Homo sapiens: one gene and its partners. The protein of the gene in region 2 purifies or fractionates together with the protein of the main gene of each other region. This does not show direct contact. Each region holds a gene or a part of one and is shown on either strand. Other genes may lie near its edges. The genes, in order: MMP2, BCAT2 and SLC2A8.

Region 1 (3,500 bases), on a different chromosome or scaffold from region 2:
GAATGAATCCACGGCACAGAGCCCATGTTCCTTCTCCCCTGGCCCAGGCCTTCCGCCCTCCCCTGCCCTGGCTCCAGGCCCTGCAGCTGTGAGAAGTCTTTCTGGGTCTTACTGCCTGGAGCCAGGCCAAGGAGCAGAGGTCAGGGATCTGGAAACCTTCCCAGCACTAGGATGAAGGAGTTGATTTGTTTTCCTGGGCGCCGCCTGCCTGCCTGCCCTGCACAATAAAGAAGTGTGTATTTGCAAGGAGCTGGGCCCTGGCTAGGGGCGGGGAGTCCTAGAAAGCGGAGACAGTCCTGGGTGGCTCACCGCCGCCCTGCAGGTCCACGACGGCATCCAGGTTATCGGGGATGGCATTCCAGGCATCTGCGATGAGCTTGGGGAAGCCAGGATCCATTTTCTTCTTCACCTCATTGTATCTGTAAAGAAACAGACACAGTGAACCAGCAGGGCCTCTCTAAAGGACACTTCCCCCCTGGCCTGGATGGGAGCACCCAGCTGATGGCTCCTGGATAGGCCTCGGAAACTGGACCTAGCCCTTCAGGGAAGCAGCCAGCTGCAGTGGAAGGAAGGGCATGGAATCAGACCTGAGTCTGAGCCTCAGATCTACCACTTTTAATTATATGACTTTGGATGACCCCATAAAAACAATCTCATGATTACTGCTAACATTTATAAAGCACTTACTACATGCCAAACAGTGTGTTAACCACTTTCCATACAGCTACAGTTTTACCAGCTGTAAAATGGGGTTGTGTCTAATTTAGTGTATTTAATTTAATGCATGCATTAAATAAAACAGCACATGCAGAGCCTCTATCCCCATGTCTCATAAATATTTAGTAGGTACTTAAGAAATGTTAGCTCCCTTACAAACAAATCCCTGCTGTAATCCGAGGAGTGCTAAACTAGAAGCCCAGGGATGGGAATCTGCCCCATCATTCTTTCACTTCATGGCTTGGAAAAATTGCTGCTTCTTCATCTGCCACAGGGAGATGACAGTCCCTGCCCTGGGAGATGACCATGGCTGGGGCAGTGAGGTTACAATGCAAGGTGGAAGGTACGTGTAAGTCCAAGGCCTGTTAGTCACAGGGTGGGCCACATGCCACCTCAGTTCCGGCGGCAGCAATCCTGGGCCCCGCCTTTAATTCAGGTAAATACTTTGGGCATCGGTTAGTATGTTCTTCTCCCTGGCTAGCAATCCTTCTGTCTTTTAAGATTTTTGGAGAACTTTTTAAATGCTGCTGTCATGTTGATTCCTTTGCCTCTCCACTTCATTATTCCATAAATATTTACTGAGCTCCCACTATGGGAGCTATGGATATCCTAGTAAACAAGTCTTGCCCAAGTGGAGCTGTTTCTAGATGAATCTGTGTTCGCATCCCATCCTGGTAGCAGCCACCTTTTGCTCCACAGTGCCTCCTAGGGGGCTCCCTTCCTTTCTGCAGCCAGCCTTGACCACCTCCACCCTGGACCCCAACAGCAGCTTTCCCTATATGCTCCCTTCTAGAGGAGACTTCTCCCTCAAAGGGACTTCTCCCTCAGCCATCACCCCGAAGAACTAACGCCTTCCTTAATCCCAGGTGCAGCATAAAACTCATTCTTACAAAACCTGGCATGCTTCCTCATGCCCTGGGTCACCAAAACCAAGTTCCCTAGCTCAAAATCCCAACACTCCCATCCAAGGCACCTCCACTGAGCCCTCAAACTACATTCCCTAGCGTTAGGATAGTTTGGAGATGTGTGTCCCACACTTGAACTGGCCCTCATTTCTTTCTCATTCTACCCACAGAAGGTGGGGATGGCAGAAGTCAAGCCCATTTTACAGATGAGGAAACTGAGTCTCAGATAAGAGAATTAGTTTGCTTCCAAGTTCTTTTCATCCAGAAAGAATACAAGCACTGTGGTGTCAGAAGATGTGGTACTTCTCTGCAGCTGTAGAAGTTGCCATGTATAGCAGGTGTTAAGAACACAGATATTTGTGTCCCAGCTTTTCCTTGAGCCACTTTAGCCTCAGTTTCCACACTTGGGAAAAGGAGCTAACAGTATCTACCTCAACTGAGAAATATAGGTGACCTGCATAGCCTCAGGCTGGGCTATGGTAGAGGCCCCATACTGAGAGCCATCATTATCTGATTCAAATGTGTTTACATAATTTTCCCTCATTCTACTATAAACTACATGAGGGCAGGGTGTGATGATTTTTTGACCCCCGTCTCTCCAGCAGCTAGCTAAGTGCCTGGCACACAGCAGATGTGGAACATATATTTGTGGCTTAGTGAAAGCTTCTACAAGCAGGGCCTGAGCTCTTCTTGGCATGCTGAAGACAGCTGCTCAGCCTCTGTCACTCTGGGGCTCTCTCTCCTTCTCCAGCAAAGATGCCTCTGGGGCCTCTGCAGACTCCACGGCAGGGCCAGTGTCACAAGCTCATTCACCACTTCTCTTGGAATAGAGATCTGTCTCCTTTGGAAGCCAGCCCAGAGCTTCTGATAGGCCCTTCAGCTCTGTCCCTTTTCAGGAAGTCTCAGGGTGGTTCCTCTGTAGAGCACGCTGTCTGTCCTGGCTCTGGCTTTGGGAGGTGGGCTTGTGTGGAAAAGGACTGGGAGGCAAATAACTCTGCCTGGAAATCCAGCAAGGCACTGCCACAACCTCCATGCCTGTGTGTGTGTGTGTGTGTGTGTGTGTGTGTGTGTGTGTGTGTGTATGCGCACATGCGCACACAATCATGTTCCTATATGCTAGGAACAGGTCTGTTTTTGCATGTTTACATAGATACAGTGCATGGAAAAGTGATTTAAAAAGTTCTTCCAACACCATAATTTGAAAACTTCAGGGCTTTAGGATTCTAAGATTCACGTTTCTGTGAGTCTGTGCGGCTCACCAGCCACAATTCTAAGACTTGGAGATTCAGGGCTCCTACAATGCTGAGATGCCATTCGCAGTACGCGTGTGTGTGTGTGCGTGTGCGTGCACACTGTCTGGGGCTAGTGTCTGGAGCTGGTGGGTGGAAAGCCTGCTCTGTGGTTTCCTGCCTGACTGTTTTCTTTCTTGAGGCTTGAGATATCAATCAGCTTAGGTTGCTAAGTGTCTTAGCAATATGTCTGGAATTCCACCCTGACATGGGCAGGCCTGGGATATAAAGAGTTTCTGAATGCAGGGCAGCTGGGGGGCAGAGTAGTGGGGAGGAGGGAAGGGGGAGAAGACAGAGGCCTTAGGAAGTAAGCGGGATTGTTTTGGGGATGGCAGACAAAGGCCTCAGGAAGTGCCCTCTAAAATTCTTGGGTAGGGCCCAGATGCAGTGGCAGCCATGGAAGGAATGTGGGGATACCAGGAGGGAGGGGATGGAAAGACACACCACAAGTCTTTGTGCCCCGACCACTCTTTCCTCACTAATCAAATGGACTGGCAGGTATAGTGGAGGGGGTACTCAGTTAGAATACAAGAGAAGTAGCTATAATCCTGGCTTTGTGCAAATACACATATCTCTATAGCTTGAACAA
Region 2 (3,844 bases):
GTGGAAGAGCCTGGAAGGCAGGGATTACCCTTGACACGTTTACCAGACAGCCTCTCCTGCAGTCCCATGCACCAGGGTAGGCAGCGCTTGGCACAGAGTGTTTTTTTGTTTTGTTTTGTTTTGTTTTGTTTTGAGACAGGGTCTCACTCTGTCACCCAGGCTGGAGTGCAGTGGCGTGATCTCTGCTGATTGCAACCTCCGCCTCCCAGGTCCAAGTGATTCTTGTGCCTCGGCCTCCTGGGTAGCTGGGATTACAGGCGCCCACCACCACGCCCAGCTAATTTTTGTATTTTTAGTTGATCCACCCGCCTCAGCCTCCCAAAGTGCTAGGATTACAGGGGTGAGCCACTGCACCCAGCCAGACTTTTTTTTTTTTTCCCATAGTGGGTTTTTGATGAATGAATAGATAAATGAATGGAAGACAAGCAAAACTAGCTACAATATTTTGGGGGGATAAAAACCACCACCACAAAAATGAGGGGCAAGATGGGGCAGGGGCAGGGAGTAGCCATATCAGGTAGTAAAACATTATAAATCTACAATACTTAAAACAGAGTGACACTGCTATATGAGTGGACAGACTGAATAATGGAATAGATAACCAAATATCCATCTAGAGAAAAACTACGTTGAATCTCTATTTCACACCTCACACCAGAAAAAATTCCAGGTGCATTAAAAGTCTAAACAAAATATATATATATATATTACACCATAAAAGCTATAGAAGGAAACAAAAATAACTGTTTTATATCTTGGATTGGGAATTTTATTTTTTATTTTATTTGAGATGGAGTCTCACTCTGTTGCCCAGGCTGAAGTGCTCTATCTTGGCTCACTGCAACCTCTACCTCCCAGGTTCAAGCAATTCTTTTGCCTCAACCTCCCAAGTAGCTGGGATTACAGGTGCCTACAACCACGCCCGGCTAATTTTTGTGTTTTTGGTAGAGACGGGGTTTCACCACGTTGGCCAGGCTGGTCTTGAACTCCTGACCTCAGGTGATGCGCCCACCTCGGCCTCCCAAAGTGCTGGGATTACAGGCGTGAGCCACCACGACTGGACTTTTTTTTTTTTTCCAATTTCTTGTACAGATAGGGTCTTACTATGTTGCCCAGGCTGGTCTTGAACTCCTGAGCTCAAGCAATCCCCCTGCCTCTTCTTCCCAGCCCCAGATGAATTTTTTAAAACCTAACCTGATAGAAAAATCAGCCTAGCAAATGGACAGTTCACACAAAAGGAAATACAGGTGGCCCTTAAGCTCGTGAGAAGATAGTCAATTTCATTAATCACTAGGGAGAAAAATGCAAATTAAAATTAGTTTGAGATACCTTTAAAACCACATGGGAGATTGGAAAAGATCTAAAACTTGGACAAGGGTTGTCCAAGGTATGGAAACAGGCTCTGCTGGTGGGTGTGGAAACTGACACACCCTGTAGATGTAGATGTGGCGATACGTATCAAGATTACAAGCATACATATCCTTTGACCTACAGTTCCCGAAATTGAGCCTCTAGATACATTTGCACTTAAACAAGTGACTAAAGAAGGGACGTGTGTACTGGATTCCTTTTTTTTTTTTTTTTTTTTTTTTGAGATGGAGTCTCACTCTGCCACCCAGGCTGGAGTGCAGTGGCGCAATCTCGGCTCACTGCAACCTCCGCCTCCCGGGTTCAAGCAATTCTCCTGCCTCAGCCTCCCGAGTACCTGGGATTACAGGCACCCGCCACCACACCCAGCTAATTTTTGTATATTTAGTAGAGATGGGGTTTCACCATGTTGGCAAAGCTGGTCTTGAACTCCTGACCTCAGGTGACCCACCTGCCTCAGCCTCCCAAAGTGCTGGGATTGCAGGTGAGCCATCACAGCCGGCCCTGTACTAGATTCTTTATTGCAAAATTGTTTATAATAGACTGGAAACAACCTAAGTGTCCAACAGTAGGGGATTGCCTAAGGAGGTGCATTGTTAGGATGATACAGCATGAGGCTGCAAGAAAGATGGAAAAAGCTCTTTAAGCTTTAAGGTATAGAGAAGAATTTCCAGGCCCAGTATGATGGCTCATACCTGTAACCCCAGAACTGGGAGGCTAAGGTGGGAGAATTGCTTGAAGCCAGGAGTTCGAGACCAGCCTGGGCAACAAAGTGAGATCCTGTCTTTGCACAAGATTTAAAAATTAACTGGGCAAGGTGGTGTGTGCCTGTAGTCCTAGCCACTCGGGAGGCAGAGGCAGGAGGATCACTTGAGCCTAGGAGGCGGAGGTTGCAGTGAGCTGAGACCATGCCACTGCACTCCAGCCTGGGAAACAGAGCAAGACACCGTCTCAAAAACAAAACAAAACAAAACCCAGGTAAAAGAGCCCGGATACACCGGATATAGTGGCTCATGCCTGCAATCCCAGGACTTTGGGAGGCTGAGGCAGGAGGATCACTTGAGCTTAGAAATCTGAGATCACCCTGGGCAACATAACAAGACCCCATCCCTAAAAAAAAATAAAATAAAATAAAAATTAGCTGGGCATGGTGGTGCACACCTGCAGTCCCAGCTACTTGGAAGGCTGACGCAGGTGGATCGCTGGAGCCTGGGAGGTCAAGGCTGCAGTGAGCCAAGATCGTGCCACTGCACTCCAGCCTGGGCTACAGAGCAAGACCCTTTCTCAAAAAAAGAGTCATAACAACAACAACAAAAATGCAGGTGGCCAGGCTTGGTGACTCACGCCTGTAATCCCAGCACTTTGGGAGGCCGAAGCAGGTGGATCACTTGAGCTCAGGAGTTCAAAACCAGCCTGGGTAACATGGTGAAACCCCATCCCTATTATTTAAAGATAATAAATAAACAAATACAGGTAGACAAAGACAGAAAGCAGACTAATGGTTGTCATGGGCTGGGGTGAGGGACAATGGGTACTGATTAATAGGTATGGGGGATTAAACAGTTCTGAACCTTGATGGTGCTGATGGTTGCATAACATTGCCTGCCACTGAATTATGGGCTTTAAAATGGTTGGAGGCTGGGCGCCGTGGCTCACGCCAGTAATCCCAGCCCTTTGGGAGGATGAGGCGGTGGATCATCTGAGGTCGGGAGTTTGAGACCAGCCTGGCCAACGTGGTGAAACCGTGTCTCTACTAAATATACAAAAATTAGCCAATAGTGGTGCATGTCTATAATCCCAGCTACTCAGGAGGCTGAGGCAGGAGAATCACTTGAACCTGGGAGGCAGAGGTTGCAGTGAGCCAAGATTGTGCCACTGCACTCCAGCCTGGGCAACAAGAGTGAAACTCTATCTCATAAATAAATAAACAAACAAACAAACAAATAAAATGGTTGGAATCCCACATTTGATGCTGTGTGTTATTATGTATGCGTATTAGTACCACAATAATAAAAAATAAGGCCAGGCATGGTGGCTCACGCCTGCAATCCCAGCACTTTGGGAGGCTGAGGTGGGCAGATCACTTGAGGCCAGGAGTTCGAAAACAGCCTGGCCAACATGGTGAAACCCTGGCTTTACTAAAAATACAAAAATTAGCCGGGTGTGGTGGCGGGCGCCTGTAATCCCAGCTACTGGGGAGGCTGAGGCAGGAGAATCACTTGAACCCGGGAGGCGGAGGTTGCAGTGAGCGAGATTGTATCATTGCACTCCAACCTGGGGGACAGAGTGAGACTCTGTCTCTAAATAAATAAATAAGAAAAAATAAAATAAAAAATAATACACGTGGTCGGCCTGCAATCCACACATGCCCTGGAGTGTGGGTGACATAGGGACAGCATTGTCCTACTCCCTCATCCTCCCCCTTCCGCCCCCTGGACCCGCGGGATCACAGCAGTGCGTTCTGTCTGCCAGGGCC
Region 3 (3,500 bases), on a different chromosome or scaffold from region 2:
CTGGCCCTGCTGCGGCAGCCCGGCATCTACAAGCCCTTCATCATCGGCGTCTCCCTGATGGCCTTCCAGCAGCTGTCGGGGGTCAACGCCGTCATGTTCTATGCAGAGACCATCTTTGAAGAGGCCAAGTTCAAGGTAAAAGGGCCCTGCCTGGCCTGCCTCGTCCAGCCCCCACATAGATGGAGCTTCCTCCCCAAGCCCAGGGCCCAGCCATCCAGCACAGGCCTGGAGAGGGAGGGACCCAGCTCTCAGCTGGCCCACCTGACCTGCCTGGGCTCTGTCTCCCCCAGGACAGCAGCCTGGCCTCGGTCGTCGTGGGTGTCATCCAGGTGCTGTTCACAGCTGTGGCGGCTCTCATCATGGACAGAGCAGGGCGGAGGCTGCTCCTGGTCTTGTCAGGTGAGGGTTCACCCCTGTGCAGCCTCCCCGCCATGCGGGGGAGGGCCTTCGCCAAGGCCACCACACTGCAGGAGGAGGACAGGGAGCATTTGTGATGACAAACATCATGGACTAATGCGGCCATGATTTGACAGCAGCTTGTCACCAAGCACTCACTGCAGGCCTGTCCATGCCAGTGGCACTCCCACACCACGCCTTTAACCTCTGTGGTGAACCCACCAGAAGGCACTCTCACAGCCCCAGCTTATGACGGGAAAACTGAGGGCCAGGAAGGTGAAGTGACTCAAGAGTTTGTGGGTCCTTTTGGACAAGTGACTTTACCTCTCTGAGCCTCAGTCTCCCCCTCTGGGAAGTGGGGGTAATGGCAGTGCCTCCCTCAGCACCATTTTGAGGAGTGGGAGGTGATCCACGTGAGGCCTTCAGCAAGAGCTGCGGCCCACGGACATTTGGTACCCAGCAGCTGCTGCGAAGACGACCGTCGGGGCTGAGGGTTACTCGCTGCTGCTTCTGTGCCGGTACCTCCCATTTCCTCGGCCCAGAGGGTCTGCTCCGGGAACTTTTTGCAGTTCGCTGAGGTCCAAGGCGGGGTGGCTGCCACCCAGTCAGGGCTTCTGCGGCCAAGGTGCCAGAACACCAAGCTGGCCGTTCTCTGGGAGCCGGGCCTGCCCCTCTCAGAGGCATCCAGGCCATGCTGCTGCGCCCTGGGCCGTTCCCCGGGTGCCCCGCCCACTGCCGCCCTCCCGCCTGCAGGTGTGGTCATGGTGTTCAGCACGAGTGCCTTCGGCGCCTACTTCAAGCTGACCCAGGGTGGCCCTGGCAACTCCTCGCACGTGGCCATCTCGGCGCCTGTCTCTGCACAGCCTGTTGATGCCAGCGTGGGGCTGGCCTGGCTGGCCGTGGGCAGCATGTGCCTCTTCATCGCCGGTAAGGGGGCCTGTGGGAGGCTGGGCGAGGAGTGGGAGGTGATCCCCCCGGCCCTGCTGTGGCGGCTCCCGGCAGGTGGGGTCTTCCCCAGCCTCACCTCTCCTCTCGTAAGTTCCAAGCTCTGCATTTCTAGCTCTGACCACATGCAGCTGTGGAACTAGGCCCCTCTGCGTTCCTTTCACTTAATCCCCTGAGCAGCCCTCGAGCAGGCCCCGTTGTGACCCCATCTCAGAGACAGAGCCTGTGCCTGAGGAGGGAAGAGGCTGGCCGAGGCCTTGGCAGGAAAGCATGGAGCTGGTGGGACCACACTGGGATCCGGGACCCCACAGCCCCACAGGCTGGGAAGCTGGGTCTCTTGGCTCTGCAGCAAGCTGAGGAGCCCAGCCCTGCGGACCCTGATGCCTGTCTTGCCTGTCTCGCTCCCACAGGCTTTGCGGTGGGCTGGGGGCCCATCCCCTGGCTCCTCATGTCAGAGATCTTCCCTCTGCATGTCAAGGGCGTGGCGACAGGCATCTGCGTCCTCACCAACTGGCTCATGGCCTTTCTCGTGACCAAGGAGTTCAGCAGCCTCATGGTGAGGGCAGGCTCCACCAGCACCGCGTTCGTGCAGTCAGCCGAGAAGCACTTTCTAAAACCACTTGTATTGCAGAAGACCCAGGGTCGTGGCCTTACATGCAGCCTGAGCCCCACCATGCCTGGGCCACTGGCCATCTTGGGCAAGGCGACGTGGAGGCAGATGGGCTAGGCCAGATGGGGAACCCAGGCTGTGACCCCTTGGGAGTCCTCTGCCTGTCTTGGCAGTCAGACAGCACAGCTGGCCTCTCCCCTTAGTGAACGTCAGGAAAGCGGGCCTTGAGCCTAAGGTCTTACATGGGAAGAGTTGACAGGGCTGGGCTGCAGCCCCACCCTGGCTACTTCCTTGCTGTGTGACCTTGGGTATGATGCTTACCTTCTCTGAGCCCGCTTCTTTGGCTGAAACTGGAGGAGAGTAACAGCAGCTTGCTCTTAAGACGGATGGGAGCATTAATTCAGTTCATCCTGTTGCTGCCTTCTCACGGATGGACTGGCACAGGTGTGGCCCCTGTCCCGGGGCTTCCCAGCCAACAGAGAGACAGTTCTGGGGTAGATGATCTGGTTGTTTGTTCAGTCATTTGTGCCCTCCAGGTCTCCTGGCATGTGCCATGTCCAGGCCCATTCAAGGCGCCAGGGAGAGCAATGAACAAGATGGACAGGGTCCCCTTTATGACAAGGACGGGAAAGGCCATGGCAGTGGTGGGAGAATGAACCCCAGTGGGGCTGGGTTAGGATGTGGTGGGGCGGGTCATGAGGGGCCAGCCTGGAGTCTGTGCAGAGCTTGGGACCCGCTTAGGCAGGACTGCCCGGGGAGCACATCGAGGGGGCCAGGCCGATGCCTGGGGGTGGAGATTACTTGCTGCAGCTGGGAGGGGATGCGCAGCAAAGGAAGGAGGAAAAGAAGCCAAGAAGGAGGTGACAAAGGACCTAACAGTCCTTTTTTAGGAGAGAAAATGTCCAAGAGGCCAAGAGAAGGCCTTCGAGGAGGGAGAGATCGCCAGGTCCCAGAGGACCAGGAGCTGAGAAGCACCTTTTTAGTTCTGGCACGTGGGAGGTCACAGTGGTGGTGGATGGCAGGGACAGGTTCTGACTGAAGGCCCCATGTGCTCCTGGGGCCATGCTCGCTTTGCCCTGTCTCACCCATTTCCACCACACTATGAAAGAACCCACCGGGGGCCTCAGGGTGGGGCCAAAGCTGAGGGTGGAGGGTTGGTCTGTGGGCCCTGGAGTCAGACCTGGAACAGGAGCCCAGCTGTCACTGGATAGCGGGTCTCTGGCCTTGAGGCAGTCACTTCATTGCTGTGAGCCTCAGTTTCCCCAGCCATACGACCTCGGTATCTTGGACAGTGCTCGGCCCAAGCCACCAGACTGGATGCCAGACTATCCTCCATGTCCCAGAGCTGGGTGGAGATAAAATGGGTGTGGCCTTGGGCAGGGCAGGCTGGGGTCAGGGGACTGGACCCCCTGGTGGCAGAGCTGTCTCAGTGATCGCGTGGGGCTTCCTGATCTCTCCCCGCGTCCACCCATGGCCTTTCCTCTCTCTGCAGGAGGTCCTCAGGCCCTATGGAGCCTTCTGGCTTGCCTCCGCTTTCTGCATCTTCAGT

The links.
Region 1: the proteins of BCAT2 (region 2) and MMP2 fractionate together in Homo sapiens (co-fractionation; one large-scale study listed by BioGRID). This does not show direct contact.
Region 3: the proteins of BCAT2 (region 2) and SLC2A8 fractionate together in Homo sapiens (co-fractionation; one large-scale study listed by BioGRID). This does not show direct contact.

What each region holds. Positions count from the first base shown.
Region 1 is NC_000016.10:55,499,698-55,503,197, reverse strand, and holds part of MMP2 (72 kDa type IV collagenase isoform 1 preproprotein), read right to left. Parts: intron 420-3,500; coding exon 310-419; intron 1-309.
Region 2 is NC_000019.10:48,800,874-48,804,717, forward strand, and holds part of BCAT2 (branched-chain-amino-acid aminotransferase, mitochondrial isoform a precursor), read right to left. Parts: intron 1-3,844. UniProt on the Homo sapiens protein: Catalyzes the first reaction in the catabolism of the essential branched chain amino acids leucine, isoleucine, and valine. May also function as a transporter of branched chain alpha-keto acids.
Region 3 is NC_000009.12:127,403,669-127,407,168, forward strand, and holds part of SLC2A8 (solute carrier family 2, facilitated glucose transporter member 8), read left to right. Parts: coding exon 1-135; intron 136-290; coding exon 291-399; intron 400-1,149; coding exon 1,150-1,323; intron 1,324-1,751; coding exon 1,752-1,897; intron 1,898-3,443; coding exon 3,444-3,500.